Regions from separate parts of the Homo sapiens genome. Here region 2 is linked to region 1. Evidence: fine-mapped expression QTL. A gene starts in region 1. The other region holds a variant in brackets. All regions are shown on one strand. Distances are between the middles of the regions. Region 1 holds the start of STXBP3 (syntaxin binding protein 3). Region 2 overlaps FNDC7 (fibronectin type III domain containing 7).

What was found. PIP is the estimated chance that this variant, and not a neighbour inherited with it, causes the effect.
Region 2: its variant is fine-mapped to the expression of STXBP3 in fibroblasts (GTEx, PIP above 0.99).

What each region holds. Positions count from the first base shown.
Region 1 is chr1:108,736,007-108,750,823 of GRCh38, forward strand. STXBP3 (syntaxin binding protein 3) reads left to right here and starts at 10,668. Exons shown (of 19, transcript NM_007269.4): 1 at 10,668-10,780. The coding sequence starts at 10,732. FNDC7 (fibronectin type III domain containing 7) reads left to right here. Exons shown (of 13, transcript NM_001144937.3): 11 at 1,489-1,518; 12 at 5,767-5,835; 13 at 5,919-6,743. The coding sequence ends at 5,798. RefSeq lists enhancers at 10,347-10,917, 10,440-10,849 and a silencer at 11,050-11,169.
Region 2 is chr1:108,713,094-108,729,861 of GRCh38, forward strand. It overlaps FNDC7 (fibronectin type III domain containing 7), which reads left to right. Exons shown (of 13, transcript NM_001144937.3): 2 at 418-436; 3 at 4,684-4,938; 4 at 5,696-5,956; 5 at 9,242-9,499; 6 at 12,657-12,911; 7 at 14,715-14,972; 8 at 15,539-15,793. Among named protein-coding and RNA genes, the nearest start is that of FNDC7, 8.6 kb to the left of the region's middle. RefSeq lists enhancers at 9,300-9,409, 9,430-9,489. The variant C/T (reference allele first, on the strand shown) is at 8,263.

The DNA of each region.
Region 1 (14,817 bases):
TTTGTTGCCCAGGCTGGTCTTGAACTCCCGGGCTCAAGCAATCCTCTCGCCGCAGCCTCCCAAAGAGCTGAGATTACAGGCATAAGCCACTGTGCCCAGCCTGAACAGAGAAATTCTAGGCTCATTCCACAACATCCGTCCTGAGAGGACTCTATTCTCTAGTCTAGGCATCTGGCATCATTAACGTGTGCCTGCTTCGGCCACACACACCTCCTATTCTATGTCATGTTCTGGAGCTACTGCAGTGCTCTTCTCTTTGCCCGGAATTCCACCCCACTTCCACCAAGAGAACTCTACTGGCCCCAATTTTCCTTGTCTGTGAAGCCTTCTCCAATTATCATAAGCAGAGTTAGCCCTCTCTCTCTCCCTCCTTTATGACCCCACAGCACCCTTATCTGTACTGCAACATATTACTGTGAATTGAATGTGTGCTTTTCTCCTAATAAATGATTATCTATTTGACTCCCAGTACGTAGCACGTAACTGTTGCCTGATATATTTGAAATTTAAAAAAGAATGAATCAATGAATATACAGCTAAGTGAGTGATGGAAGTCTTTTGTTCTTTCTCCTGCTCCATGCCCACAATTTCACCCTTAGAGAGTCATTCCTCTGAGGGCTGGTTAGCCACCAGAAGTCCTTGTGAGTTAGAACTCAAGTTCTTTGATGGGATGCCATCTCAAGCCTGTAGCCATTTCAGCTTAGTAACATTAGGTATCTAGACTCAAGTTAGGAAATCCTCCTTTGCTCAGTGTCCCTGGTAAAAGCCATACATTTGGGAGATGTTTTTTGGTTTTGTTTGTTTGCAGTATCAGTGATGTCTTATTCTGATAATCAGGACAATATTGTAAATGACAATAACGACTAATGTTTATTGAATGCCATGTGCCAGGCACTGTTCTAAGGGGTTTACATATATTAACTCAGTCCTTACAACAAACCTATCAGCTTGGCATTCTTTTTTTTTTTTTTTTTTTTTTGAGATGGAGCCTTGCTCTGTCACCCAGGCTGGAGTGCAATGGCGCAATCTCAGCTCACTGCAAACTCCGCTCCCCAGGTTCAAGTGATTCTCCTCCTCAGCCTCCTGAGTAGCTGGGATTACAGGTGTGCACAACTACCATGCCCGGCTAATTTTTGTATTTTTTGGTAGAGATGGGGGTTTCGCCATGTTGGCCAGGCCGGTCTTGAACTCCTGACCTCAGGTATCTGCCCACCTGGGCCTCCCAAAGTGCTGGGATTACAGGTGTGAGTCACTGCGCCCAGCTGAGCTTGGTATGCTTATTCTTACTGCTTTTCAGATAAATTGAGGCACAGTAAAGTGACTTGCCCAGGTCATACTGCTAGTAGTATCTCCTTCTCTTATCACCCAAGTTCGTTCTTGTTCGTTTTTTGGTTTACTTTCCTTTTATTCTTTCTTAAGTTAAATCTTCACTATCTTAAATACATAAATGAATAGATTTTATTTTAAATGCTTGTGTTTTTATTACAGTAACTTGCTCTGGAAGTACACTTGGAATGGGTAAGTCATTTTTCTCATGGATAAAATAGAACAGGATTTTTGTTGCTCCATTTTGGGGTTAATGAAGTCAGCTGACTTTTCAATTAGAAAGCAAATGCTTTCTTTCTTTGATACAAGGGGCTCCTGCTCTCTTATCCCATGACTTTTTCTCCCCATTATAGTGCCTCCTCTGAGATTCCACCAGTTGAGATGAATTTCTTTGAATTCTGAAGTCTTTTTAGTATTCTAGGATCCTACAGGAAAATGTAAATAGTTTTGGGAGGGGCAGCGGCTTCATCCCTCACACTTCAGAAAGTGATTCCCAGCTCAGCTGTACACTGGAGTCACCTGGAGAGCTTAAAATTAACTGATGTCTGGTTCTGTCCCCAGAAAGTTTGATTTAATGGGTCTGGGGTGAGAGCTGGGCATCAGGAGTTGTAAAAGCTCTTCAGGTGATTCTGAAGTATAGCCAAGGCTAAGAACTGCTACTTTAGAGCCGTGCTTCTCAAACTTTATTGTGCACACACATCACCTGGGGCCTCGTTAAAGCCAGATTCTGATTTGGTCGGTGTAGGAAGTGTCTGAGACTCCGTATTTCCATAAGGTCCAGGTGATGCTGGCGATGCCGAGGCTGCTGGTCTGACCACACATGGAGTAGCCAGGAGTTAGAGAGAATCTGTTAACGGCCTGCAGAGAGCTACGATGTTTGCTCCTGGTTTGCATGAGTGGGTATACCCCGTGGAGAGAGAGGGTGCTGAAAGGGCAGTTGGAATAAAGAGAACCCTCACTGCCTCCTTGGTTTTGCTCAGGGATGATCTTGTCTAGGCTATTTTGGTTGCCCCCACAGAGATGACTCTTGGCAGGGCAGTGGAGATGAGCAAATGGAGCCATGAGTGTTGACCCAGTAAGCAGTGTATGCTGCCTCATGAGGAGTCCTTGCCACAGCCTTTTAGGGGACAGCTTGGTCTGGGGCCTTAGGAAAAAATCCCCTGGGAATATTATCAACCCCAAACTACAGAACTTCTCTCCCGCCCACCCCCACCCCACCCCTCCCCATTCAGACATGGCTGATTTTGAATGGTGTGAGTGTAAATGAAGCCTTCTTGCCCGTAAACCCCACTGGACAGCCTTCCAGTCGGGGCTGGCTCCCCACCCACACCCCCTTCCACTGGCAGGAACTGGGTCTAGAGTCTCCACTCCCTGTTCTCTGCCTGGGCTCCCTTCCTCTCCCAGTCTATTGCTTCTCTGAGCACAGCAGGTTACACACTTTTCAATTCCTGTCCCACCTGCAGGTCTGAAATAAGCACAATCCTTATTAATTTTTCAAGAGTTTTTGTTTTCTATGACTACAAAAAGGAACAGACTTGGCTTACTGAAAACAAACTGTGAGGACACTTCTAATTATAAAAAAGTCTCCCAAAGTAGTAGAGACCATACACCCTGGTCTTCAGTGAAAGGTACATGGACCTAGGTCTGCATTCTTTAATCAGTATCTCCCTGAGACATAGAGGTGTGGTAGAAGTGTCCTAGGTCCCCAGGGGAGAGGAGTGGTGTATGATATATTGGCCTTGCCTATGATTTTGTTCAAGGAAGGGTTTCAAATAAAAACAAAAAAAATAAAAATGTAAAAATGTAAAAAAAAAAATTTAAAAATGTTTGAAAAGAAAGAATGTCTATGTTTTAACAAAAAACACAAAAGGTGGGGTGGCAAGGAGAGCAGGCATGGTGGCTCACGCCTGTAATCTCAGCACTTTGGGAGACCAAAGCAGGATTGCTTGAGCCCTGGAGTTGGAGACCAGCCTGGCCAACAAAACGAGACCTTGTCTCTACAAAGTGTAAATAAAGTAGCCAGGCATGGTGGCATGTGCCTGTAGTTCCCCTGTAGTCCCAGCTACTTGGGAGGGTGAGGTGAGAAGATTGCTTGAGGCTGGGAATTCAAGGCTGCAGTGAGCTATGATAGCACCACTGCGCTCCAGCCTGGGTGACAGAGTGAGACACCAGCATCACCAGAGAGCTTTTTAGAAATGTACAGTCTTGGGCCCCATCCTGACCTACTAAATCCCCAGGTGATTCGTGCATGTATTCAAGTTTGAGTAGCACTGCTTAGGTACTGCTCTTAAACTCTGCTGTGTATTAGAATCTCCTGGACAGTTAATAATGAATGCAGAGGCCCAGGTCCTGGCCTAGTGAAGTGCCTCTATATTTCCATCAGGTTCCCAGGTGATTTTGATACACATGAAGTTTGAGGAGCACTGCTTTAGATCACTAATGTCCTCTTTTCTGTCCTTCTAGGCTTCAGCTTATCTTCACCATTCCCTTCCTTAGCCAGGGCTCAGTCTTTAGCCTGAAATCTGCTACTCTCTTGAAGTAGATATTTGTAGAAATCCTGTAGGAGCCAGACACAGTGTCACACACCTGTAGTCCCAACTATTCAGGAGGCTGAGGTAGAGAATCACTTGAGCCCAGGGGTTTGAGGCCGACCTTGGCAACATAGTGAGAGCCCCCTGCCCTCAACGCCATCTCTCTAAAAAAAAAAAAAAAAAAAAATCCCGCAAGGCCCTCCAAAAACAAGAGTAAGCCAGATTATTTGAGGGTTTCTAAGGTCATATGGAAGTCATTATATCTAGGGGGAAATTCTAAATTGCTGTCTTCAATTTCAGCATTTCCCCTCCCCAAACACAGAGCAAGTCCAATCAGGTCCCTGGGCTGACATTGGAGCCTCTGGATATGCTGAGGGGAGCCATGGGAATCTTGCTGGTCTAAGGTTTTCTTTGGGTTTTCTTTGACTCTTGGAGTATCCTAAAGCTTTTCAAACTTTTTTTTTTTTTTTTTTTTTTTTTTTGAGATGGAGTTTTGCTCTGTCATCCAGGCTGGAGTGCAGTGGTGCAATCTCAGCTCACTGCAACCTCCACCTCTGGGATTCAAGCGATTCTCGCGCCTCAGCCACTTTAGTAGCTGGGATTACAGATGTGCGCCACCACACTTGGCTAATTTTTGTATTTTTAGCAGAGATGGGGTTTCACTATGTTGGCCAGGCTGGTCTTGAACTCCTAGACTCATGCGATCCACCTGCCTTGGCCTCCCGAAGTGCTGGGATTACAGGCGTGAGCCACCGCACCGGCCATAAACAGACTTTTTAAGAGAGATCTGGATTCAAATCCTGCCACCATCACTTGCTCTTAGTCAAGTTGTGTAAATTCTCTCTGAGCCTAGGTTTCCTCATCTGAAAATTAGAGTAAATAATAATCCCTCATAAAAGAAAATCAGGATTAAATGAGAATGTAAATTATTGGACACAATAATAGGCTCATAACAACTACTTAATAAATGGTAGTTGTTAATTCATATTCAGTTTAAGCTCATATCACATTCTATTATGTACCAATTATTAACATTTTAATGTGCTACTTCTAACGAAGACATTTGCATTTTAACCTTGGTCCTCATAATACACTTCCTCATTGATTCTCTAAGTGTGGTCCTGGTGCCAAAAGTATCAGCATCAGCTGGGAACCTCTTAGAAATGCAATTTTTCAGACTCTTCCACAGACCTATTGAATCAGAAATTCTGGGGCTAGGGCCCAGCCTTCTTTGTTTCAACAAGCCCTCAAAGTGCTTCTGATGGATGCTAAAGTACAAAAAGCATGGCTTTAATTCAAGAAAGCTATTTCAATGCTGGAAATTTGATGCAAGTTGGAAGGGAAAGGAAAAAAAAAACCTATTTGAGGTGATAGCGGCTCTAACAAGAGGTAGATAGATGGGAGGGGTTTGTGCCTGACATCACACCATGAGCAGGGGCTGGGGGTGTTCCTTCATCTTTAGGACCCAACATGTTTCAGTGTCACCTGTACATCCTGGGCAACTTTGAGGAAGCTTCCTCTCTGTGACATACTTAGCAGCTAAACAGGTTTATGTTTTCCATATAAAACTCCCTGAGTCATTAAAATTTTGGAGTTCCCTGAGGAGCACAGCAAGTTGGCCTGGGGGTGAAAAGGAAAGTCCTTTTGTTTTGAACCAGTGGTCTGGGATTAAAGAGACTCTGGGAGGGTTCATTTGGTGAAGCAGGAGAGAGACTGCTCTGGTTAGAAACTGCTGATCAGTTTGAACACTTTGTCAGTTGTCATAGTTTCATGTTTACTTGCCGTGAAGTGCTGCAAAAATAGCATTTCAAATCAACATACACATAAAATCTCAGACACTGGTGCTTTTTAAGAAAATGTCTGCATATTGAATGCATCTTTTACTGCTTCCCTTCCTTACCCTTTTCAGTGATTTATAGAGGGAAGAGAAATGAAGAATGACAAAGTGAGCCCCAGATAAAAACAAAAACTTGACCAAGTGAGTAACGTAAATTGATTTTGTGTGATTTTATGGCAAAGTTTTTTGTCTTTGTTTAAAATGTTTTCCCATTTGTCTTGCAGAGTTGTCTCATTTGTTAGTGATTAGAGATGGAAAAGATCTACTAGAATGTAGAATAAAAATGCCTCTAGGATAGGAAAAGCTCCTTTGGCCTTTAGAAGAACAACTCTGACTCTGCTTCCTGAGGGCAAGGTCAGGTGTGTCCTCACCTGCACAGCAGTTGGAGATCTGCTATGTGAGGACTCTGGAGAGAAATGAATCCAGAAAGTCCCCTGGACGGCTGCTAGCCTGAGTTGGCACACTGTGAGAACCCTGGAAACAAGAAAGTTCTGCTTAGCAGAAATTCTGAGATTTCACATCCACACACACCACAGACTTCAACACATCCACTTCATGAGTGTTTTACAACAGCACTTGTCTGCAGCCCCCTCAGGGGCTGGAAATGTTCACTCCCAGAAAGTCAAGCCACCCACATGCAGACAGCACTTATCCCAAGACAAACCTCCAGCAGGACTTCAGTATAGGTTGGAAAGCAGTAGCTGCCAGGGCAACCTGAGATAACAAACGCCCTCATCGCAAGTTAGGAGCAAAGCTGAGCTGCTTGCAGGGTTCGCTGAGCCAAAGCATCAGGTGGCGTGACATCTATGGGAGCATCTGGGAAAGCAGAGCTGCCAGCCTGTTGCTAGAAGGGTTGCAGTTATGCTTTCTGCATGAGAGAAGATGTCAAATGGAGAGCCTCAAACTGTGGCCGACTGACATGCGTGCATCTTTTGGGGGAGGACCATCCATCTTATTGGCCATATCCCCCACTCATATTGTAATTACTTTTTTCATCTTTGGAGGGGGAAGGCAATGAAATATAACATAAATCTCTCATACCTAAAAAAGTTTGTCCTTCAAATATCAGTAACCTAATTTAAAACATGTGAGTAGACTTGTATAACACACACACGCACATGCACACACACAGTTATAGTGCTTGCTCCCCAAACACATGGCTATGGAGCCAAGCATGTCTCTAGTTAGGAACAACCATAAAACTCTGCCCAGGGGGAATTGGACCATGGAATTAGGCTCGAACTAAGCATGGAAGAAAGAACAAACTTCCCTTTCTGTTCTCTCAACTTCCTATCAACGTGCGCTGCAAGAGAGAAGTGATATGCTTTCTCTATGAGACTGATCAGAGATACGTAATGGGTCACTAATAAGAGATCTTCCCCAGAACATCTGTACATGAACAGAGACAAGCCAAAGGTATATATCTCTAAAAATGGAATTGGAAGCATCAGAGAGCACACCTAATACCCTACAAATACCAAGGCACAGAAAGTGAAATAGCCATCTGCCTAGCTAGGCACCTAAGGCTGAATTGTTTTGGTCAGAATGTCACAGAAGAAAATGTGATCCACAGTGGGTAAAGATAAAATTAGGTTATTTAACGTGTATATAGCACAAACTACCAGCTTGTAAGTGCTCTCCATATGCTCGTTTTATTCTCATAACAACCCTACAAGCTAAGTAATAACATTATCTCCTTTATACAGGTAGGGAAAAACGGGCCCAGAAAGGTCAAGTAGCCCACCCATGTTCACACGGCTAATCAGTTCAAACACAAAGTTTCAGGGAGAGAAGTAAGTAGCATTGGTTAGACCTGCTAATTCATGCTATCTTTCAGTTAAAATTTTAATTTTAATTATTATGGGTACATAATAGTTGTATATATTTATGGGGTACATGTCACATTTTGATACAGGTATACAATGTATAATGATCAAATCAGGGTAATTGGGGCATCCATTACCTCAAGCATTTATCATATCTTTATGTTAGGTACCCATGATATCTTTTGTTTTTTTTTGTTGTTGTTGTTGTTTTTGTTTTTTTGAGATGGCGTCTTGCTCTGTCGCCCAGGCTGGAGTGCAATGGCGTGATCCCAGCTCACTGCAACCACCACCTCCTGGGTTCAAGCGATTCTCCTGCCTCAGCCTCCCGAGTAGCTGGGACTACAGGCACCCGCCACCACGCCCAGCTAATTTTATACTTTCAATAGAGACGGGGTTTCACCATGTTGGCCAGGATGGTCTCGATCTCTTGACCTTGTGATCCACCCGCCTCTGCCTCCCAAAGTGCTGGGATTACAGGCGTGAGCCACCGCGCCCGGCCTCCCATGATATCTTTATGGAAAATATTTCTCTAGATTATTATGAATAAGTGATCGCTTATTAGAGGAGATCTGGGAATAGGATAGTGAGTGAGTGATCTGCCCTAACTCAAGTGCGTGTACATTCAACCCTCGGTTATTTTGGCCATTTACCTGCTCTGAATTATACAAAGCAGCTTTTCATCCCTGGCCAGTGTTAGCAGATTTTACCTTCTACTTTGCTGTGTCACATTTAGGGAATCCAAGTTCATTTTTCAATTTGTTTAGGCAAGCAAACTAGAGGAGACGTAGAGAAACTGCTTAGGGAGCTTATGCAAATCTAGGGGAGCCTGGGAGGATAGGCAATTTGGTACACTAGAAAGAGCAATGGCCTTGGAGCCAGATGGATCCAGATCCTAGCTCATTTTGAGATTTTTCATGATTTATTTAACCTCCCTGAGACTCAGTTTTCTCATATGTAAAATGGCAATGGTCATCTTGCTGGGCTGTTGCGAGGTTTGAGATAATATATTCATATTCAGCACACAGGTGCAATGAAACTGAGGTGTTTGAGGTCACACTGCTAGTAAGAGGCAGAGCCAGATTTTGTAGGATGTAAACCTATGCCTACGTGCAGTTAAAGACCATGCTTGCTCCACTATTCCGCAGTGCCACCAAGGACTCTGGCCTTCAGGAGCATGAGCCAGAACTGCACCCCATGTGACCAGAGTCAAACTTCCAACCCAGAGGGACCTGTATTATTCCCTGGCACCTGGTCATTCTCCTGAAGGGTAAGAGATGGAGGCACCTCACCCATCTCACTCTTCCCTCTTGGTTTGGCTCTTCAGAGCAAGGGGCTTCACCTCAGAAGGGTGAATTTTCCCTGGCACATATTTTTCTTATGGATTGGGGCTTCACCCTGCTAAACTAAGCAGAACCTAACTTAAAATGAAAAGGGAGAGGGAAATCATATGTGCACTTGTTTAAAACATTGAGCAACTGAATCAATTTAGAGTAGGTTTAAAGGAGGTCAGGGCTCCAGCTTCTATTCTCATATAAGCCTTGAACAGAAAAACCACTCAGCCATAGGTTGTGCCAGAACCCATTTTATGGCCTTTTTTATTGTTAGATACAGGGTCTCATTCTGTTCCCCAAACTGGAGTACAGTTGCATGATCATAGCTCACTGCAGCCTGGAACTCCCAGGCTCAAGCAGTCGTCCTACGTCAGCCTCGCAAGTAGCTACGACTCCTCAGCTTGCAGGTAGCATGCGCCATCATGCCCAGCTAACTTTTTTATTAATTTTTTTTTTTTTTTTGGTGGAGACAGCAGTCTTGCTATGTTGCCCAGGCTGGTCTTAAACTCCTGGCCTCTATCAGTCCTCCTGCCTAGGCCTCCCAAAGTGCTGGGATTACAGGTGTGAGCCACCATGCCCAGCCTGTTCTTAATTCTTCATTTGCCTTTCCTCTCCTAAAAATTGCAGGTTACCCCACAGACTACTCTATTGCTTTCCATGTAGCCCAAGCCTGATCTTTGTTCCCACTCCACCACTAAGTGCATCCTTGGCAAGTTACTTGACTTCATTAAGCCTCAGTTTCCTTGTTGTAAGTGTTGCTTTGAGGATCAGTGAGGTAATCTACTTAGCATGGTGCCTGGCATATGGTAAGTAAGCACTCAGTAAATATTAGACATTATTATTAGTAGTAGTATCTAACCACTTCTACTTCCCTGTGTGACCAATTTGAATCTTTACAGCCACTGGTTCTTTGCAAATCCTTCTAGGAAAGCCTACTTTCTGCCAATGTCACATGGTTATCTCACAGTTAGGGCTCTTAGCAACTAAACTGATCTCACTTACGTTTGATTACTTTGATTTAAAGTCCCAAAGGAACCATCTCAGTAAACAGATCTCTACCTAAACTTTCTGAGCTCAGATCTCCTCCTCTGTGAATCAACTTTCAACAATAATTGTAGATTCTGAAGCATTAACAGGCCCTCCCTACATTTGTTGCATAAATTTGTTAATAAATGATTATTCTTTTGTTGGTTCATTTATGTATATCTTATCATTAAGGCATTCAATTTTTAAACTAAGTTTTAACTACCTGCAGCATTCCAGGAATTGTGCTCTTTAATTAGATTGTAAATTATTCAGGGGAAAGAGTTGATCTCTCATTTCTTTGAGTTTCCTAAAAGTCCAGCACAGTTCTTGGCACACTGGAGGGAACCTCACAGTTCTACGCAATTACTGTGTCCTTGAAAAAATGAATGAAATAATCATTTGGGGACAGTACATTTTCCATTGGGTAGTTGGGCTGGCTACTGAGTGAAGTCTATTATGAATCGCCTTGCGAAGTGAAGGGTTCTTCTGTAATGGGGAGGATCCTCCAGTCTTCGTGTATGTGTGAACTCGGAATTTCATAGACGGCCTTGGCTCACGATCGGTTTGGCACTTCGCGTTCCTAGGCCACAGGACGTCGAACCTCGGGCGACAGCAGCCTCCCGCTAGGGGGCTCCCGACTTCCCACGGAGGTTCCACCTGTACTGCGCAGCCTCCGTCCGGGAGTGGGCGGAAATTCCCTTGCTGACGCGCGTGACGTCACCGGAGGGCGCGGTCTGCTAGAGGGGGTGGGGCATTCCCCTGCAGCAAGGGGCGGGGCCACCCCAACGCCGCTTCTGCGGCCAAAGTAGGTTGGGAGTGGAAGGTGGTGGCTGCTGCTCCGCAGTGTCGGGAAGATGGCGCCGCCGGTGGCAGAGAGGGGGCTAAAGAGCGTCGTGTGGCAGAGTGAGTGCGGTGGGGTAGGGGTTGAGAGAGGGAAGGCCGGGAGGCTGCCGTGCCGGGCCTCGTTTTGCAGCCCCAACCCAGCGGTCTGTTGAGGAGCCGCCGCGAGCACTTGTTGCTTTGGGACCTGTGTGAGGACTTCTTCCTGCTTTCCTGCCCTGCCTTATTCCTTGCCAGCACCAGGGATGGGCGGGGTGCGACGGGACGCGGCCTTCTCGTTGGCGTCGGGCACCCCCTCGCCTCGGCCGCGCTCTGGCCGCGAAGCTCCGCCCCGGGTGAGCCGCCCGGCCCGGCTTTCCCTCCCGCGGAGCCCGTGCGTGCCCTCGGCCGCGCTCCCCACTCTTCTCCGCTCCCGTCCGCGCTCCACCAGTTGGGGATGTCTCTCCATCCGAGACAATTCGGGCGCTGTTTATTCCGCCCCCATCTCCACCCCACACTGGAGTTTGCAAGGACTGTTTATTCTGCTTATTCGTGTTAGTATCAACCCGTGCTTTTCAAAAAACCTCACTGTTTAACAGACTCATCTTCCCCTATTCCGAGAGGAGCCTACTTTCTGAAAAGTTCTTGAGAAGAGACCATTGGAATGACCGGTGTCCAGCCGTGACATCTTCCTGCATAGCCTGGGCAAGAGCCGCTCCTTCCGTTTTCCCTACTCTCGGGGGCCCCTCCCTGCTGTTAGGACCGGACTCCTTATTGGTTACTGATGTTCTGCGGTATCATCCACAACTTTCATAAACATCGCTCCAAACCTAGGTCTGGCAGGTTAGAGAAAGAATGAAACCACCCAACAGGAATAACCATCATTGTTTGGTATCTCTGAGTTCAAGATAATTATGGCCTAGTAGTGGAAAGGGAGTAGCATCTAATTAGTATTTCTTAGTCCAACTTGTTGAACAAAAAACAAATGATTTAGTCAGCAGAATTCTGGGAGTTAGAGTTCCTTGTCTAAAATTAAAAATCCAAATCAGTAACTGGGATAGTGCTTAACATATAGCAGGCACTAAGCAAATGTATAAATAGGTGAAAAATATGAAATTATCTTTTAAAAGATTAGATAATTTTAAGGTTGGCATTTGCTTTTTCAAGATTTACATGGCTGACTTAAGATTTGAGATGTTTTAAAACAATGGTATTTAAATACATTTATGTGAAAATGGGTAACAAATTGTGTTGTATAATTTCCAAGATATATATGTGATTAACATCCGCATGTATGTATTTAAGCCAGTTCTTTACATATTGAATCATAAGCTTTTCCCTTTTTCACATTTTCCTTCTGATCCTCATACAGATAAAGACATTGTTTTTATTATCTGTCATTCTGTGACTTCCTTTTTTTTAAACAACTGACATTGACTCAACATTTTTCATGTTGCTTCACAATCTCGTAATTAACATTTTAAATTGCTTTTTAAATACCTTGAGGTGGCAAAAAATTTTGATAGCAGAAAAGAAAAGAAAAAATTATGGCCAGGTGCAGTGGTTCACGCCTGTAATCCCAACACTTTGGGAGGCCGGGGCAAGATGATCACCTGAGCCTAGGAGTGGGCAACAAAGTGAGACCCCATCTCTACAAAAAAATTTTAAAATTAACCATGTTTGGTGACATGCACCTGTGTTCCCACCTACATGGGAGGCTGAGGCAGGAGGATCCCTTCAGCCCAGGAGGCTGAGGCTGCAGTGGACATTGATTGTGCCACCGCACTCCAGCCTGGGTGACAGAGCAAGACCCTGAGTCTAAATAAATAAATAAATAGCTAGCGTAAGCCCGGGCACAGTGGCTCACGCCTGTAATTACAGCACTTTGGGAGGCCAAAGCAGGTGGATTGCTTGAGCTCAGGAGTTCGAGACCAGCCTGAGCAACATGGTGAAACTCTCTCTCTATCAAAAATACAAAAATTAGCCAGGTGTGGTAACGCACACCTGTGGTCCCAGCTACTCGGGAGGCTGAAGTGGGAGGATCGCTGGAGCCTGGGAAGTTGAGGCTGCAGTGAGCAGTGATCATGCCACTCAATTCAGCCTGGGTGACAGAGCATAACTCAGTCTCAAAAAACAAAAACAAAAATTATTTGGGTAACTTTTGGACTAGTGGAAGATTAATTTAGAGATTAGGTAGAAGCCAGTCAGTGGAGGATGTTAAATAGTAGAGTTTAGATTTTATTCTATAAGCAAGAGTGAGCATTTGAGGGAATTTCGAGGTGTGTATTAATATAAACAAAGGGTTGTATTTCAGGAAGGTGACTCTGACAGCTGTGTGAAAAATGGATTGAAATAGCAAAGGTGTTGGAGGTGGAAAGCAGGAAATCCAGATAGGATTCTATTGCAGTACTTCAGTGAGAGAGAAGAATCAAGTCGATGCTGGGTGACAGTAGCAATGAAAAATAATAGCTACCAGGGAGAACAATCAATATGCCTAATAGGTGGGCGTGGGGAAAGGAGGAAATAGACAAAGACAATGACTAAGAAAATGACAATAATACTTAGAGAAATAAGTCTAGAGTAGTTTTCAGGGTGCTGTAATCTCAACTTGAGACATGTAGCTGCTTGTATCTGTATTGCGTAGTTGAATGAAGTTCAAAGAGAGAAAGGCTGTAAGATTGTGGAAAATCGAAAGATTAATATGATAGATGAAACTTTGATGATGAATATGGTCTCTGAGAAGACCAGCCACAGGAGCAAATTCTCTTACCTTTGCTCTGAGAACAAGCAGAGCAAAAGTAAGAGAATTGAGTCTTGAGATATATCCATATTTAGGATGCTAGAGAAATGGATATAAGGTCAAATGATTTTCATTAGTATTTAGAGGAAATACCTCCTTAGTTCTATAGTATTTGTTGATATGATTTCCTTTGACTCCTCTCTAAACATACCTACCTGTGACTGTGTCACTTTTTATGGGTGCCCTTACTATCTCCATAAAACTAGTTCGTTCTTTTAGACAATAACACTGACTCTGTAGGTATCTTCAGATTCTTTTTATTTTTTCGTCTGGCAGACACAGGTAGATCCAAGTATCTTCAGATTCCAAGACAGTTCTATCATTAGAAATTTAAAGCACATATGTAATTTTAAATTTTCTAGTAGTCACATAAAAAGGTAAAAAGAAAAAGGTAAAATTAATATATTATATTTGACCTAATAAGTTTTTTACATTCCTTTTTTTGTGCTAAGGTTTTTTGAAGTCTCATATGTATTCTGTACTTACAGGATATCTCAGTTCAGACTAGCCACATTTCAGGTGCTCAATAGCCAGATATGGCTGGTTTCCACCATCTAGGACAATGCAGTTCTAAGGTTTCAAAGACTGTAATGAGATGACTTCTGCTTGGGGAGCTTTTCTCCAATCTGCTCCATCATAAATTCCATGAGCATTCATTTCTTAAGAGAAAGACACAAATAAATCTGATAAAAACAAGCAAATGTCTTCAATTTTCAGCTGTTTGAGGTATAAGGAATGAAGCTAGCTTTGAAAGGAAAAGCAGCATAATATTTCTGTATCTGAGCTCTACCGGAGAAAATCCTTTATTTTTGCCTGTAGGGTTCTAGAAGCCAGCGCTTTTGGCTTAAATTATGGTTAAATATTTCGGACTTTCACCATAATTCTCATATAACACTATAATCCTCCTAGCAAACAATATATAATTATCTCAATTGATATTTCATAACACTTCCAAATCTTCTCAATCACAATACAACCTTCCAGATCACAATTCTAAAAATGACTATAAATAACTGAATTGCTTTTACTAACAACATTTCTGACACCAAATATGTGTTTTATTCCCCCCTCACACCAACCAGTTCTCCAACTCTGGACACCAGCTGTATTAGTGTCAGAATTGAAATGAATTGTAGGATATCCAGTTAGTTAGGAACTAGTTAGCTAGGAACACTAGTTAGTGTCAGACTCCACAGGTTTAAGGGCTCAGTCTCACAATACTGCCTTCACTTCAAATGCCAGTACCAAGTCCCTAGGTTACCCACACTTCTGTCTGTCTTGGCTACAAAGTCAGGAATTCCTACAACCTCCCTTCCCTTTC
Region 2 (16,768 bases), 22 kb before region 1:
GAGATAGAAATCAGAATACTTTGGTTTGTACCGAGGTTGTATATGTTTGCGTGTTTGAAATTTAATGCCATATACTAGAGAAAGAAAACAAGATTATCATTATATTTTAAGAACAAAGATTTCTGAAAAATCTGTCAGCAGCTACTGACTTAGTTCAATAGGCAGATTCAAAGGGGAAAAAAATGAAATAGTAATGGGATCTGCCTCCAGCCTCTAAATTCTATTTAGAGTTGTTTTGTGGTAGATTTGGGTGCTGGGAAATGATTTGTGTGGAGAAATACTTGTATGGATTGAAAGACTGCTCACGTTAGATGTAAAAATGTTGTGATTAATTTATTACCGCTTTTATTCATGTTTTACGTTTGTTCAAGTTGTGTTTTTCTGTGTGGTTCTAATTTTCCAAACTTTCCTTTTCAGGTTGCTTCAGCAAAATCAGGTACAATTTTCTGACCTGCAAGTTTTTCCTTCTCGTATTTGATTTTAATTTCCATTGTTAATTCACGGGCTACCCTGAAATCTAAAGGCTATATGAGAAAAAAAAATTCAATATTTTCTGAGCACTCACACTGGGTGCTAAGCACTCTATTGGGTCCTGGGGAGACAATAACTGGTAAGACAAATAAATGGATTGAACTCGAAAGACAAATCTTCATAAAGTGTTCTTGCTGAGGACTATAATGTACAGAGCCATGTAGGCATGCATTTTCTCATATACGGTTAGCCATGTGTGAAATATTACAATGATCATCATTCCAGTTAAGATATTGTACAGAGTCTAATTTATACAAATGTTCTTGTTTATCTTCCGGGGAATTAGAGGGAAAATGAGAAATGTTATATTTGATTAAATTGTCAATATTCCCTACTTTAAAAAGAACTTTATACTTCTAATATTGCATATTTGAAATATAGACAATAGTCACTCAGGGCTGAAAGGGGACCCTCTTTTAAAAATAGTTGATCTCCATCTTTCTTGAGTAGATAACCGAAGGCAAAAATAATTTATCTAGAGGCCCCTCCTAGCTCATTTGTGCTAGAAATCTAAGTACCTGGAATGGAAATTTATTTTTAGGAGGGTTAACTTATCTGTAGGAACCACATAATATCAACCATATCACCGATAAATTCTCATAGTGATTCAACATAAATTAGAAAAATTTTTATTTATTATTTTGTCTACACCACAGAAAAGGAAGTGAAATTAAGACAGTTAAAAAATTTGATACAGATACATGTCTGAGCCATGAAATTTCATAAAATTCATGCATATACAGTAAGTTTTTAAAAATTTCTATTTCCTGGCCAGGTACCAAGGCTCACGCCTATAATCTCAGCACTTTGGGAAGCCAAGATGGGAGGATTGCTTGAGCCCAGGATTTCAAGACCAGCCTGGGCAACATAGCAACACCCCACCTCTTGCTTTATTCTTATTTACTTGTCTTATTCTTGAGAGATCTTTAGGATTAGCCAGGAAACTATAGGAGGGTCTGCTTGGCCATATACAAAGTGGCATTTTTTTTTTTTTTTTTTTTTGAGACAGAGTCTCTGTCGCCCAGGCTGGAGTGCAGTGGTGCAATCTCGGTTCACTGCAAGCTCTGCCTCCCAGGTTCAGGCCATTCTCCTGCCTCAGCCTCTCCGAGCAGCTGGGACTACAGGCACCCGCCACTACCCCCGGCTAATTTTTTGTATTTTTAGTAGAGACAGGGTTTCACCGTGGTCTCGATCACCTGACCTCATGATCCGCCCGCCTCGGCCTCCCAAAGTGCTGGGATTACAAGCGTGAGCCACCGCGCCCGGCCGGCTTCTTAAATAAGTCGACTTTGGGTGGACAGAATCTAACTCTGCCGTCTCTTACAAGGTCCTAGCACACCCAGGACAGACCAAGCCCTCAGAACAGGCCCCTTTTTGGTGTTTATAGCATCTGCACTAATCTAGAGAAATGGTGGGTCAGGCTAAGCTACTGATGCTGCTGCTAATTGACTCAATTGCTAATTGAGTCCCGGCTTTTCAACAGATAGAATGTGTTTTAGCTACACTGTATAGAAGGTTTCATTTTGGTTGTGTGTGTTTTGATTCTCTTTGGGCTCTGGTATTGCTGTGTATCTGTGTCTGGTCACTGGGGCCTCGTGGGCTAATTTAGATCTCTTTGAGCTGGTGGAATGCACAGATGCTGAGAATCAAAGGGTTCATTTTTGACTGACCAGAGTGGTTGGTTGCACATCTAGGGAATAAAGTTTTCTCTTTCATCAGTCCAGTCAGTGGGCTAAACATAGAAGTAAGAAAGAGTAAGGAACTGCTGCTATTTTATGGACTTTACACTCCAGCTTCTCATCTACTAAAGGGCAACATACTACATAGGTGTTGATCTCATTTCATTGTTGATGCTGGTCACAGCCTGCCCTAAAACCAGGTGTAAAACAGACAATCTCTCTCTCCAGCCTGTGTTTGCCGCATACTCCTCAGAATCCCACTTTCACAGGACCCCTCCATGGCAGCGCCATATGGTCTGGCTTTTCCGAACCCATCAAAATTTACTTGTCTTGGCTCATACACAAACATGCGCGTGCGTGCGCGCGCGCACACACACACACACACACACTTTCCAAGTGCCCTAACATACATTATTTCACTTATTCTTTACAACAATCCTAAAATGCAGGTATTTTAAATTTCAAAGTAAATCCTAATATGTAGGTATTAATAATCCGTATTTGTCAAGGAAGGTAACAAGTCTAGAAGAGGTAAAATGACTTGCATGCCTTCACACACAAAAGTAAATAGCAGGGCCAGGGCTCAAACCCAGAGCTCCTGAATCCAAACCCTTTGCTATTTTCCCACCACACAACCCCGAGTTTCATTCTGTGATACTGGCTTCCTGCATTATGACTTCCAAGCAAATGTGCCTCTCCTAGATCAATTCCATGAGGCCAGTTTTGTGGAGCCCGCGGGCCCCATGACAGGCCTGTGGGGAGAGGGTCTGTGTCATGCTAGCCTTTTAGATGCCTTTCAAACTGCTCCGTGAATGCATGATCCGGCCTCCTGTGTCTGTGGCCAGTTTGGCTGTCATTTTCCCAGGAAGTTAGTTCATTCCAATGAACAGAACTGGTAACATAGGAGATAAGATTAACTCTGGGGACAGAGGAAACAGAAGGAGTTGAGAGACACCAGAAAATTAGAGGAAAGAAGGCATATAGCACAGGATCATTAGCTTGGGGAGCAGAAGAGAGGTGTGTGTGTGTGTGTGTGTGTGTGTGTGTGTGTGTGTGTGTGTGTGTGTGTGTGTTGGAAGAGGGAGCCCCTGCTGGGGCTTTCTATTCTGTAGGGGAGAGAGGGAGCGAAGCCCTTTCCTATAGAATTGGCTTCCACTGGCAAGTGGCTATGATGAGCAGGCCTGAGATTTTCCTCCAGCATATATAAGTGTCATAATTTTCTTTCAATGGCAAAAGAGACTATCCTGGGTGATGTTCAAGGAATGTCTGGCCAGGGCACAGAGGAGACTTTGTTCATTTTTGCAGCATGGTTATTTCTGAGATGCTGCCAAAGCTAACTCTCTGGGCTATTGGTACAGAAAGAGAAAGTTGTCTGTATCGTGCACATAGGGACTTGGCTCTGGGAGAAGGGGAGCTGATGCTGGAGAATCACCTGTCTGTCTTTACTCCTTCTCCCTCTTTGCCCTATAGTTCTGCTTGTTTGTCTTCCCTTTAGTTTTGAATTTGACATATAGTGATTTTACCCAGCAAGTGGAGTACATTAAACCTGAAAGTCCAAGTGCCAGTTTCAAATAAAACTCAGCTATTTTTGTTTGACCTTTTCTTCCACTTAGATCTCCTATATCCAAGACATTTTTGCATCTATGGAATTTTGTAAAGTAGTCAATCTGATTACTGTGCTGTATCTCCTACTCCATACTCCTGAGTGTAGGAATGCTTTGTGTAAGCCCATGACATAAGCATTCATATCTCCTGGCAAACCATAGCCCGGCCCATCACATTCTTATGCTGAGGCAGATATTGTGATAGAGAAAGGGAGAATAAAGTTTACTTTTATTTTGTATGGAAGAATCTGAGAATTATTCCACTCTGATAATATGAAAGAAAGTGCTATGGAGTAATTATAACAAAGAACTCAATCCTCCCTCCTTGCTCCATTGGATTAAAGGTTATCTGGAAAACGTGCAAAGTGCATGAGAGAGTGACCGCAGCCACTGAGCGGAGGCAGGAGGAATGGAGATGGGTCCAGCTGGAGGCAGTGGGATGGCTGTGGGACCAGGAGGGGAGATCAATGGCAAAGCAGCCTGCAAAAGTCACAGAATGCCCAATTGGAGTAGAATACTCTGGAAGAAAGCCTCTCAATTATTCTCTCTCTCTTCCCAGAGTTCTTTCCCGTAATTACTTCTCATTCTTATTTAGCTCTTTTAAAAGTACAAAAAGTGCAAATTACCCCACAGGCAATTGGGGAAAACTTTAAAATCCCATCCCTGAATGAGAGGTTTGAGCTTTCTGGATCTCTTCTGGAGAGTAGCTTTGTCTTTCTTTTTCTCTGTTTTTCCTTGATCTGAATAATAAGGGCAAAACTTCTGTCTGAAGGAAGGCATGAGAATGATTTAGCTTGAAGAGTAAAATGATGAAAGAAGTCATCCTCGTAGGTATCTTGGCTAATGTACAACTCTAAAACCTCTTTCAGCTCCTGAAATACCCACTATTGATCAGGCATATTCAAAACTCAGCAACAGTATCACTGTAGAATGGGCTACAGTGCCGGGTGCCACCAGTTACCTCCTCACGGCTGAAGACGGGGACACAGTCATTGAAACCACGGTGGCCAATTCCCCAGGCACTGTGACGGGACTAAAGGCTGCAACCTGGTATGAAATCACCATCAGATCCATCAGCGCTGCTGGGAGAAGCCAGGCGTCACCTCCAAAGCAGGCAAAGACAGGTGGCTGGATGGATGCTCATCCTCCGTTGAGTGTTTGCTTGTGACTTGGATCAGTTATCCTGGTGCTGCAAATGCAGAATGTGATTTGGTGTCACATGAGTGCCTACAATTCAAGGCCCAGAAGTGAAAGCTACCAAATGATGCTGTTTGAGAATTCAGCTATCTGCGGAGGAGGTGGCATTTAAATGCCAGCTGCTTTGCTTTGGAAAATAAAGCCCATTTCTGGGCATCTTTAAAAGCATCCCAGCTTTTAAATCTCTGAAATAGGGATTTCTGGTTTTAACACGCCAAATGAAGAACACAGAGAAGGGATTTTGCTGCACTCTGACCGTATGGCATATATGTTAACAAAACAAATAAAAGCATTTGGAGTTTGTCATCAGCATTACTGAAATTGATTTGATAAAGTTGTACCTAGGCATATTTCTGAAAAGTTATGTGCACATTAAAATGGTGTAACCCCTAATTTTCCCATTGATTTATATTATGATTATAGGAATGTTTTATCTAATTTCTGACTAACTTCAGTTAAAAGTAGTGCCTGATATTTAGCGTTTCTCTGTTTCCCATTCCTCTGCCAAGTCATTTATGATTAGTATACACTTAAATAGCAATTATTTAATGAAACTTTGTTGTGAATGCTCTTCTAAAGCAAATAATTATTGTATATTATGGATATCAATTTACTTGCTTCTAAATTTGAATTATCCTCTATTGGACTTTGGTAACACAAATGCATGTGTTTTTATTTTTTTAGTGTTGGCTGCACCAATTCTAGAAGTAAGCTCTCCAAGTTCAGACTCCATTCTTGTGCAGTGGGAAGCTGTATATATGGCAATTGCATTCTCCGTGTCCATTATGCGAGCCAATGGCTTGGGGAGTATATGGAAAGAGAATACTACAAACACCTCCTTGACATTCACCAGTTTAGAAGCCGGAACTCTCTACACCATAAAGGCCTATGCATGGAATGCCAACAGAATCCCTGGGGATGACTCCACCTGCAATCAGAGAACAAGTAAGAACTTCTCAGCTCAGCCTCGAACAATTCTACTTTTGATTAATGAGGGGGGCTGTGTGTTGCAGCCATCAAGGGCAGTGTTACATGACAAGTACAGAGCAGCTGGCAACAGCTATTTAAATTTATTATAAAGTTATTTATAGTGCCTTGTCTATTCCTCCTCGGTAGTTTAAACGCTTCCTGCATGGATAAAGAAATGCTACTCAGAATGCACACAGCATGGCTCCGCCCTCTAATATCCAACTCAATTTCAGCATTCACATTCGACCTCACACAAAAGAAGATGATTCTTGTTAAGTTTACCCATCACCCCTTGTCCCTTTCTGGGTTCAGGCCAATTAGTATAAGAATTGGGCCAAATAGGAATTCATTTGTTCAGCAGATACTGAGTGAGTGTGTGCCAACTTTGAGCTGGCATTGTTCTAGAGATACAGCAGCAAGCAAAGCAAGGTTTCTGCAGGCACAGTGCTTGATGCTGCAGTGGAATTCATGTTTCAGATCTGTTTCCCAAAGGCCTCAGCTTGGGTCTGAAGTCAGCATGGGGCTTCCCACTATTGCTCCTCCAGCTGTGGGGAGAAGCTGAAGCTTGGTGTGCATTTTCTCACCGTCCCACCTAGAGGTCCCCCGAGCAAAGGACTCTGCAGCATTACAACTGGAGGTCCAAATTGAGCTGCTGGAGTGAGCCAAGCGAATGAGAGAGAGAGAGAGAGAGAGAGAGAGAGAGAACGAGAGGGGGTGTTTTTTCTTTCCTTGAGGCAGAGTAAGCCATCCACTGGCAATGTAACCTACATAGATAGGAGACTCTCACCAACCAGATTAGCTGTTTCTCCACTTGGGGAGGACACAGGAAAGGATGGAAAGAAACCAGAAATGTTCTCTCCAACTTTCCCTAAGTTTGGAGGGGAATGGAAGCCCCATAGTGTATGGGCCAAGGCAGAATGTAGGGAGAAGAGAGGGGTTTGCCTTTTATACTATTTCCCTAGGGAGGTAGTATAATCATAGCCCTGCGGTGATTCATGACAGTCTTGGTGAGTCAGGATGTCTGTGACAAGTCAGTCTCCCTGGGCCTTTTCCTAGGCTGGCTGGCTTGCTTTCTTCCCTCCTTCCCTTATCTTCCCCTCCTGTCCTTCCCTTTCCTTTCCCTTTCACACTGCTTTTTTCTTTCCACATTTGTTGAGGGCCCACTGTGTGCTGGGCATAAGTTAGCTGATGGAAATACAAAAGCAAATAAAGCATGATCCCTCCATTCAAAGAATGGACTATGTCAAAGGAGAGACCAATGGTGAGTCAGCGTTTCCAGTTTCACCTGACCAGTGCTTTGGCAGAAGGCTGCCGACACAGCGAGGCACAGGAGGCAGCATCTTCATCAGGCTGGGGCACTGAGACAGCATCCCCTAGAATAACTTGTTTCTTAAAGACTTCCCCTACATAGGTTTCCCCATGTTTTACAAAGCTTTACAGAGTTTAGATTTCACCTCTGGATTAGTTTCCTAGGGCTGCTGGAACCACAAACTGGGTGACTTGAACAATAGAAATGTTTGGTTTCATGGTTCTGGAGGCTACGAAGTCTGAAATCAAGGTGTTGGCTAGGTTGGTTCCTTCTGAGGGATGTGAGGAAGAATCTGTTCCAGGCCTCTCTCCTTGGCTTGTAGATGGTTATCTTCACATTCACATGGAATTTTCCCTATATATGTGTATCTGTGTCCAAATTTATTCTTTTAATAAGGAAATCAGCCATATTGGATGAGGGCCCACCCTAATGATCTCATCTTACCTGATTACATCTGCTATGACCCTATTTCCAAATAAGGCTACATTCTGAGAGTACTAGGGGCAAGAACTTCAACATATGAACTTGGAGGGAACTCAAGTCAACTCATAACAGGCTCTCACTACTCTACCTATTTTTCCTAGTTCTCCCATGCTTCCTGTGGGAAAAGCAAGTTGCCCTAAAACACTGCAGGCTACCCCTACCAGCCCTGGGCCCAGCACTTCCCTAAAGCAGAACTGCCTCTGCAGACTAGCTGACCATGCAGTGGGAAGGGGCCTGTCAAGATGGCCCACGGGAAAATCATGGCAGATGCCTGCCTTACAGAGAATGAGTTAGGTCCTCATGTCCTCAAAGAGGCCTTCCCGGCCGGGCACGGTAGCTCACGCCTGTAATCCCAGCACTTTGGGAGGCTGAGGCGGGTGGATCACGAGGTCAGGAGATCAAGAACATCCTGGCTAACATGGTGAAACCCCGTCTCTACTAAAAATACAAAAAATTAGCAGAGCATGGTGCCGGGCGCCTGTAGTCCCAG[C/T]TACTCAGGAGGCTGAGGCAGGAGAATGGCATGAACCCCGGAGGCGGAGTTTGCAGTAAGCCAAGATTGCGACACTGCACTCCAGCCTGGGCGACAGAGCGAGGCTCCGTCTCAAAAAAAAGAAAAAAAAGAGGCCTTCCCTGTTTGTCCCAGACATGTCCAGAGGATGCTGGTCTCTGCTCACAGACTGTTTAAGCAGTTTCCTAAGGCCTGCTGCGTGGGCGTTATTACAGTACAGATTCCAAAGAACGGAGGCCAATTTCTCCCCTCCCCAGGCCAGGACACCTTCTTACGCTTTTTTAATGCGGTAACTCTTAAGAAAGGAAGGTATATTTACAAGAATGTAGGGTTAAGTGTTTTGGAGACACTAAAAGACTGCCTTAATATGTATGCATCACACTTGACACCTTCCTTCCTTCCTTTTGATAATGAATGGAAAGAAAATCTGCTCCTCTAGAAACAATTATGACCGAAAAGCTATTACAGTAAAAGTTGTAGCAGATGTCAAAAGTAACGAAGGGATATGTTTAGTTTCATTGATCAATAACAGAAAATATTTGACCTATCACTTAATAATAACGTACCCACGTGGCCCTTTTAGTTCTCCCCATTTATAATTTCATTTAACTATTTTAACTACTTATTAAATAATGCATTAATTCATTCAAAATATGTCTTTTGGCACCTATAGGTGTTAGGCATGGATCTTATTAGATCTATTTAGATATAAGAAAAAAATAAATAACAAAAAGGGTAAATAATATGGGGTCAAGGTCACACAGTATATTATGAGTTTGCATAGTAGCAGATGAATTACCAGTTCCCAGGCATCATCCTAAATCCCAATTTTATGCTTTGAACACTTGTAATTATCCAACTATTGGGTACCTTATCCTCCAGGCTCTGCAACATTGTTATGCCAACTCTTACGTAGTTTGTAAGGCTACTACAAAATCTTAATTGTTTCTCTAAAATGTAGGTCCTCGGGCCCCTGCCAACATTCAAGTCTCTTTCGATAGTGGAGCTCTGAAGGCATCTTTTTCCTGGGCACGGGCAGAAGGAGCTTTCAATTATACTGTGATGGCTTTGAGCGACTCTTCAGAGCTGACCTGCAGTACAACTTTCAGTTCCTGCACCATCTCTTCCCTCCAGTGTGGAACTGAATACTTGATTTCAGTTTTAGCAAGTAATGATGCTGGATCTAGCAAATCATCTTCAGCAATGACCCTGAAAACTGGTATGTAAACAAGAGTGAGACTGCTGTCGGGCTTGCAGCCCTGACTGCTGTAAGGGAGACGTTCACTGACAATGTTTCTGAATACTCTGGAAAAAATGAAAATGAAAGCCTGGTCTAAATGAAAGCATAGAGTTGGACATTCTCATGAGTTTGAATAATATTGATAGTGAAGCGAGATATTGTGTATTGCAAAAAGCACTTTTTGGAAAATTAGGAGGCCTGGTTTCTATTCCAGATCTTTCATTAATTAGTTTTTTCTTTTTCCTTTGTAAAGCTGTGAAAATTCTAAGATGTGATTTGAGTTGTACACAGCTCTAACTGTGCATACAGATAACTGCGTCTTCTTTGCGTCATGTCTCATGTCCTAGGCTTGGTGGGAGCCGCCATTTTTTAAGAAAAAGATAGGATATTTCTAGTTCTGAACATGCGTTTAGATATTTTTCCATTTTCATTCTTATCAGAGAGATAACCACATACACATGTGGAAGTTGACTCCTCTATTTAGAAATATCTATGTGTCTTGGGGATGGAAACTAACACTTAATGAAACTAACACTTAATGAAGACCTACTATGTCTCTGGCACTATAAGTATGTTATTTCATTTAAATCTCATGACAACTCAGTGAGGTGGGTTCTATTTTCTCTTTTTTTACATAAGAAAATTGAAGCTCAGAGAAGTTAAATAATTTTCCTAAGGGCACACCGATAATAAGTGGTAGAGCTGAGATTCAAGCTGCTCAAGTTTGCCTAATTCCAATGCTTAAAGCCAAAGAAAATGTTGACAATTACAATAATATCTACTTTATCTAACAGTCAGTTATGTCATTCTAAGTTTAAAAAGCTTCTGAACAGAAAGAAAAGGAGCTGTCATCAAGTTGATGCACTCCATTCCACAGGAAAAAAAAAATAAAGCTATTCTTTCAGGCCCGCACTCTCTTATAGTTATGTTAAATTAAGGTCAATGATAACAAACTTGATGATTTGGCTTCTCTTTTGACAACTGTGATTTAATGTGAATGGTACATTAGAAGCGATTATGAGGACAAGATAGCTAAGAGTGGGAGAAGAGAGAAAAAATACTTTCAAAAGCATAGCAGTTCTGAGTTACGCAGTTAGGCATTTAATGCAGGGGAGAACCATGCAGAGTTTTTAAATCTTGGACACACATTAAGAGCATCTGGGGAACTTTTACAAAATCCCAATACCCAGGTCCCACTTAAGACCAACTGGAGTTGCTGGGAATAGAATTTGGATATGAATAGTTTGTAAAAGCTCCCCAGTTGATTCTACTATGCAGTCAGGGTTAAGTGCCATTGAAATAATCCTTCACACTTAACAGGTCCAGGATGTTCTAAGGCAGTTTGTGTATAACACAGTCATGATCATAGGGATGACCTTGACTTATTAATAAAAGAACTATGTTTACAAACTACGGTGTGTCTCCTGGGGCCCAGAAGTGTGTAATATATTTCGGGAAGATTTCCACTAGAGAAAACTAAAATTTTTAAAGCTTAGCACTTGAATGAACAAACTTTACTTGAATTCATTCTTTCAGAAGATTTTGTTCCATCAATAAATGAGGCATTATGTGGATAAATGAGGTATTGCCTTAACACAGAGAAACAGTCAATATTAATCAAATCAATACATGCCTGCTTTTGACATAGTCTAGCACTTATTGTGTGAGATAAATTTTAGGACATCTGAGAATGTCTCCTGGGTTTGTACTGAGTTGTACATACTATTTGATTTGTTCCTTATTCGTAGCATCTAGTATCTTAACTCTATGCTTAAGATGCTCCCTGGAGGATGTAATGGGCATAAGAATGTATTCTGTCATTCAGTGCATGAGAGGCTGCAGTTAGAAAAACTTTCCAGGTTGCACACGGGGGCTCATGCCTGTAATCTCAACACTTCAGGAGGCCGAGATGGGTGGATTGCTTGAGTCCAGGAGTTCAAGACTAGCCTGGGCAACATGGCTAGACCCCGTCTCTACAAAAAATACAAAAATTAGCTGCTCATGGTGGCATGCACCTGTAGTTCCAGCTACTCACGAGGCTGAGGTGGGAGGATCACCTTAGCCTGGGAGGCAGAGGTTGCAGTGAGCTGAGATCGCACCACTGCACTCCAGCCTGGGTGACAGAGCGAGACCTTGTCTCCAAAAAAAAAAAATTAATTAATTAATTAATTAAAAAATAAATTTAGGCTGGGCGCATTGGCTCCTGCCTGTAATCCCAGCACTTTGGGAGGCTGAGAGGGGAGGATCACTTGAAGTCAGGAGTTCAAGACCAGCCTGGCCAACATGGTGAAACTTTGTCTCTACTAAAAGTACAAAAATTAGTTGGGCATGGTGGTGCACACCTGTAGTCCCAGATGCTTGGGAGGTTGAGGCAAGGGAATCACTTCAGCCCAGGAGGTGGAGGTTGCAGTGAGCCGAGATCACATCACTGTGCTCCAGCCTGGGCAACCGAGTGAGACTCTGTCTCAAAAAAAATAATAAATAAAATAAAAAATAAATTTAAAAAAATAGTTTTTTTAATAAAAGAATTTTCCATGCTATGGAGGCTTTACAGATAAACCCCCAGAAAGACCCAGCTCCATTCCTTCCTACTTATGTGATCTTAGACAACTTACCAACCTCTATAAGCCTCAGTTTCCTCAATTGTAAAATGATGATAGTTGCTGGAAGAATTAGAGAATATATTAATATAAAACACAATGAATGATGTCTGTATTTTAATCTCTAAAACAGGTAACTTCTGGGATATTCATTATTCCACTCAAGCCAGACTAGCTTCATCTCTGGATGAAGTCAAATATTTCAACAAATAATCTAACGATGAAAATTTGTATGTCTTAAGATGACTATGAATCTCTGATGGCTCATTATTTCAAACAATATTTCATATAACAAGAGAATGTGAGAGGTCATTAAAATTTGTTGTAGTGGTTTGGGGCCTGTAACATAGCCTTTGGTCCTATAAAGAAAATCTTCTAATGCTTCCAGTGCACAGTTTTGCATTTTGTGCACCAAATTCAATCTGTCACAAAGCTCAGAGTTGCTAATTTGGGTTGTATTGAAATCTTGGATAATTGCAAAGATGCGAAGAAAATCTCCTGCAGTAGTCTCATGTTTATTATTGATCATTTCCTAGTTGCTTGTGCACCCGGAAGAGTGACGATCCAAGAAGATCCCCCTGGCCACCTGTCTGTGGCTTGGTCCAGTGTAGATCTGGGTGACTACTATGTGGTCTTTGTGAAGAGTGATGATGGCTTGGAAGTACACTGCAACACATCTCTCACTCAGTGCAACTTCTTATCTGAGTGTGGCTTCACTTATTTTATTAGTGTTTTTGTCTATAACAAGGCAGGGCAAAGTCCTTTGGGTGACATATTCAATTATACCACAGGTAAGTCCCATTTGATGTTTGTTAAGGGAGTTCTGAGATCTCTAACCTCAGCAGCAGAATGGATCACCTATTCCACTTATTGACTTACCACCTGGGAGTCATTCTAGAGCCAAGAACAGAAAGTAATCTCTTATCTCACATTCTTTCCAGACTAGGGAATTTTGGCTTTGTGGACCTAAGCATAACTAGACTGCAAGGTTTGGGAGTGAAAAGAGGAGAAAGAATGTAGTTGTTCAACCTTGCTCTGAAAGATTGAACTCGCCACAAAGATGTACTCAGTGAGTGTTCTAGCATGTGCTGCTGCCAGAGAGAAGGCAGTGCCTCCGTTTCAGGAGGTCACTCTTTCCCTGAGACCAAGACAGACATACAATGGCCAAGACGCTACATGGTGTGGAGGGCTTTGGAGTAGGACACCTGGGTTTACACCCTAACTTGACCACTAATTCATTCCTTCAGTGAGGATAATGATGCCCACCTTGCTAGTTCCTTAGTATCCTCCACTGCAAAATGGGACAAATCATGAAAACATGAATGTAAAAAGGTCTTGTGTGTGACAAAGCATGATGCACATATTTTTATTATTAGCATCACCGTTGCTGTTGCTATTATTCTCCTCTACTAGGCTTGCATCTTGTACAAGGCAGGAATTATGTCTTATTTATCTCTTCATCCTCAGTGCTTATAATAGTGTGATCAGCATATGGGAGATGCTCAAGTTTTGAAGAATGAGTGGAGTGATTTGAAATTAAATAACTACATTACAAATAAGAATACTCAAACATAATTATGTAAAAGTCTAGCTGAATTACAGTAAATTTTGACAGGATGAGGGATCTAAATCATTGGTGCCTTTGGAATGTGGAAAAAGAGGCTATCGATAAGGTCCCGACACGAGAGGGCCCTCCAGAGTGGCCTTGAACTGGATCTTGAAGGATGAATGGGAATGTAGGTGGGGCAAGAGCATCCCAGGGAAACTCCAAGCTGAGTCAGACATTTGCCAGTGGGGTTCTTTAGGGTCTCTTAAGACCTACCTATATACGGCCGGGCACAGTGGTTCACGCCTGTAATCCCAACACTTTGGGAAGCCGAGGCAGGCAGATCACTTGAGGTCAGGAGTTGAGACCAGCCTGGGCAACATGGAGAAACTCTGTCTCTGCTAAAAATGCAAAAATTAGCTGGACGTGGTGGCATGTGCCTGTAATTCCAGCTACTCCAGAGGCTAAGACCTGAAAATCACTTGAACCCAGGAAGCAGAGGTTGCTGTGAGCTGAGATCACACCACTGCACTCCAGCCTGGGTGGCAGAGCAAGACCCTGTCTCTTTGAAAAAACAAAACAACAACAACAACAAAAAAACTACTTATATAACTGTGAGCCCTACCCCCCAGTTTTATTTGGTTTACTGTCTGGAAAGGCTGACAGGATCTGAGAAGTTAGACTGCATATGATTTTACCAGGCAGAAGAGGGGAATGGCTTTCCAGTGGAGGGGTCAGCAATCTTCTCTGCATAGAGAACAAGGGCGCACGTGGCGTGGGGGAATTGAGGAGTCTGGTGTGGCAGGGAGTGGGGGGAGTACAGCAGAACCTTATAGCTTGCAATGACCTTCAATGTCATGCTGAGGATTTACCCTCTATGCAGTGGCAATTAGGCCAAGATTGGACCTTGACAGACCCATAGGGAGTCACTGTAGTCATCAGGGAGGGCAGTGGCAGAGGCTCTGGGCATGGGAGGTCAGGACACAGTGTACCCCCAGCTGCATTGCTCTTGATGGGACCGCCATTTTCCCTCTGCTCCTGCTTTCAGCTCCCTGTTGTCCTAGTGACATTAACCCCGTGTTGGTGTCCAGTGACAGAGTTGAGATTGTCTGGTCTCCTGTCCGTGGTGCCGAACTGTATGAAACCAAGGCTGTAGATGGGTACAACATGGTTGAGTGCAATGACACTACTCCTGCGTGCACCCTTTCGGCTCTAGAGTGTGACACCAAGTACAACATCACAGTGTATTCATTCAATGAAGTCCGAGGCAGCAATATGTCATGTACTCCCCAGTTCATAACCACAGGTAAGGCACAGCTATCATTCCACTCACTGGTGTCTGAATGATTCACCCCAGCTCTGAGCCTCAGGATGGGCATTCAGTGAGACCAATAAAAAGGTTAAATCCCATTAATCAATCTTTGTGGAGACCAAGAGAGCCCCCGTTGTACGAAGGAGAGGCAGAGGAGAAGGCAGAAGAGGAAAGTGGAAAAAATGAAAACAAAAGGGGAGACCACGGGGAGAGTAGAAGGTTTTGCCCATGATGACTTCAGCCATTCGGTTCCTCCTATCTTTGAGGGGCCTGCCTGTACTCACACCATGAAGGTGTATAAATATGTTTCTTACTTACTTTTGCTTTTGGAGTTCACAATGCTTTTAAACATTTTCCAGCTAGTCCAGTACTCTATGAACCCAATGCCCTGTGTTAATGTCAACAGTTCCCCACGCATAGGCACTATGAATTTGGCCCGCATGCATGACGTGGTTGAAAACTGTGATGATCTCACTGGGGGCAAAATCAGTTTTAGACCAAATGGCACATGTGATATTTTTGACTCATGCTGGTTCAATTAATACTCTAAAATGTCTTAGCTCCTTGCAGTCCTGAAATAAAAAATGTTTCAAGGGATGCATTCTCCATGATTAATGTGCACTGGCGATCCACTAATGATGATGCTACTTACACGGTGACTGCCCAAGGGGAGAAAGGACTGTATCAGTGCAGCAGCACAGGAGAGTCCTGCACCATGCGGGGCTTGCCCTGTGGCTCAGTGTTCTCTGTCACTGCTGTGGCCGAAACACAGGCAGGACGGAGCCTGCCCAGCTACAGTGTGCCCCTGGAAACAGGTATGTAGCAACCACCAGCCTGAATGTTGACTTCAGTGGGGTCCTTATGGAGTGTTTCAAGACATGAACTTCCTTATTTAATCTACCCTCAGTGCAACAGAAATACATTAAACTCAGAGACGTTTCAAAGAGTCCCGGTCATAGACAATAAAATTTTCAATATTTTACAAGTTCTGTAAAAATATCCTCAAGACTAGTATATCCATTCACTGGCATCAGAGAAGGAATACTTACTCATTCTGCAAAACATTTATTTGAATTCATATTCCCCTATGATATAATCTATCGAAACAGCTAACAAATGAGTAGCCAAATGAGCTGGGTTGTTACTTATTTCTTTGGCTCAGCCCTTTCAAATTTTTCTCTTTAAAAAATGCTTTCTGGCCAGCATGGTGGCTCACGCCTGTAATCCCAGCACTTTGGGAGGCCGAGGCGGGCAGATCACGAGGTCAGGAGGTCGAGACCATCCTGGCTAACACGGTGAAACCCTGTCTCTACTGAAAACACAAAAAATTAGCTAGGCGGGGTGGTGGGCACCTATAGTCCTGGCTACTCAGCAGGCTGAGGCAGGAGAATGGCGTGAACCCAGCAAGCGGAGCTTGCAGTGAGCAGAGATCATGCCACTGCACTTCAGCCTGGGCAATAGAGTGAGATTCCGTCACAAAAAAAAAAAAAAATGCTTTCTGACTTTCAATTTCCTGATAGGTAAAAGGGAGATAATGGCCTCATAGGGTGGCTATGAGTATTAAGTTGACTAATGCTGCAAAGCACTTAGCATAATGCCTGATGCACAGCAAGAGCTCCATAAAAGAAAACTATTATTACAGCGTAGCATTGTGTATGAATGAAACGTGGCAAATCACTTCAAGCCTGTGGACATTAGTTTTTCTTATATACAGTGATAGATGGCACTTTGGACTATAAAAGTTGAAATACCTAAAAAAAGAAGCCAGCAGTAAGATAGAGACCATACAA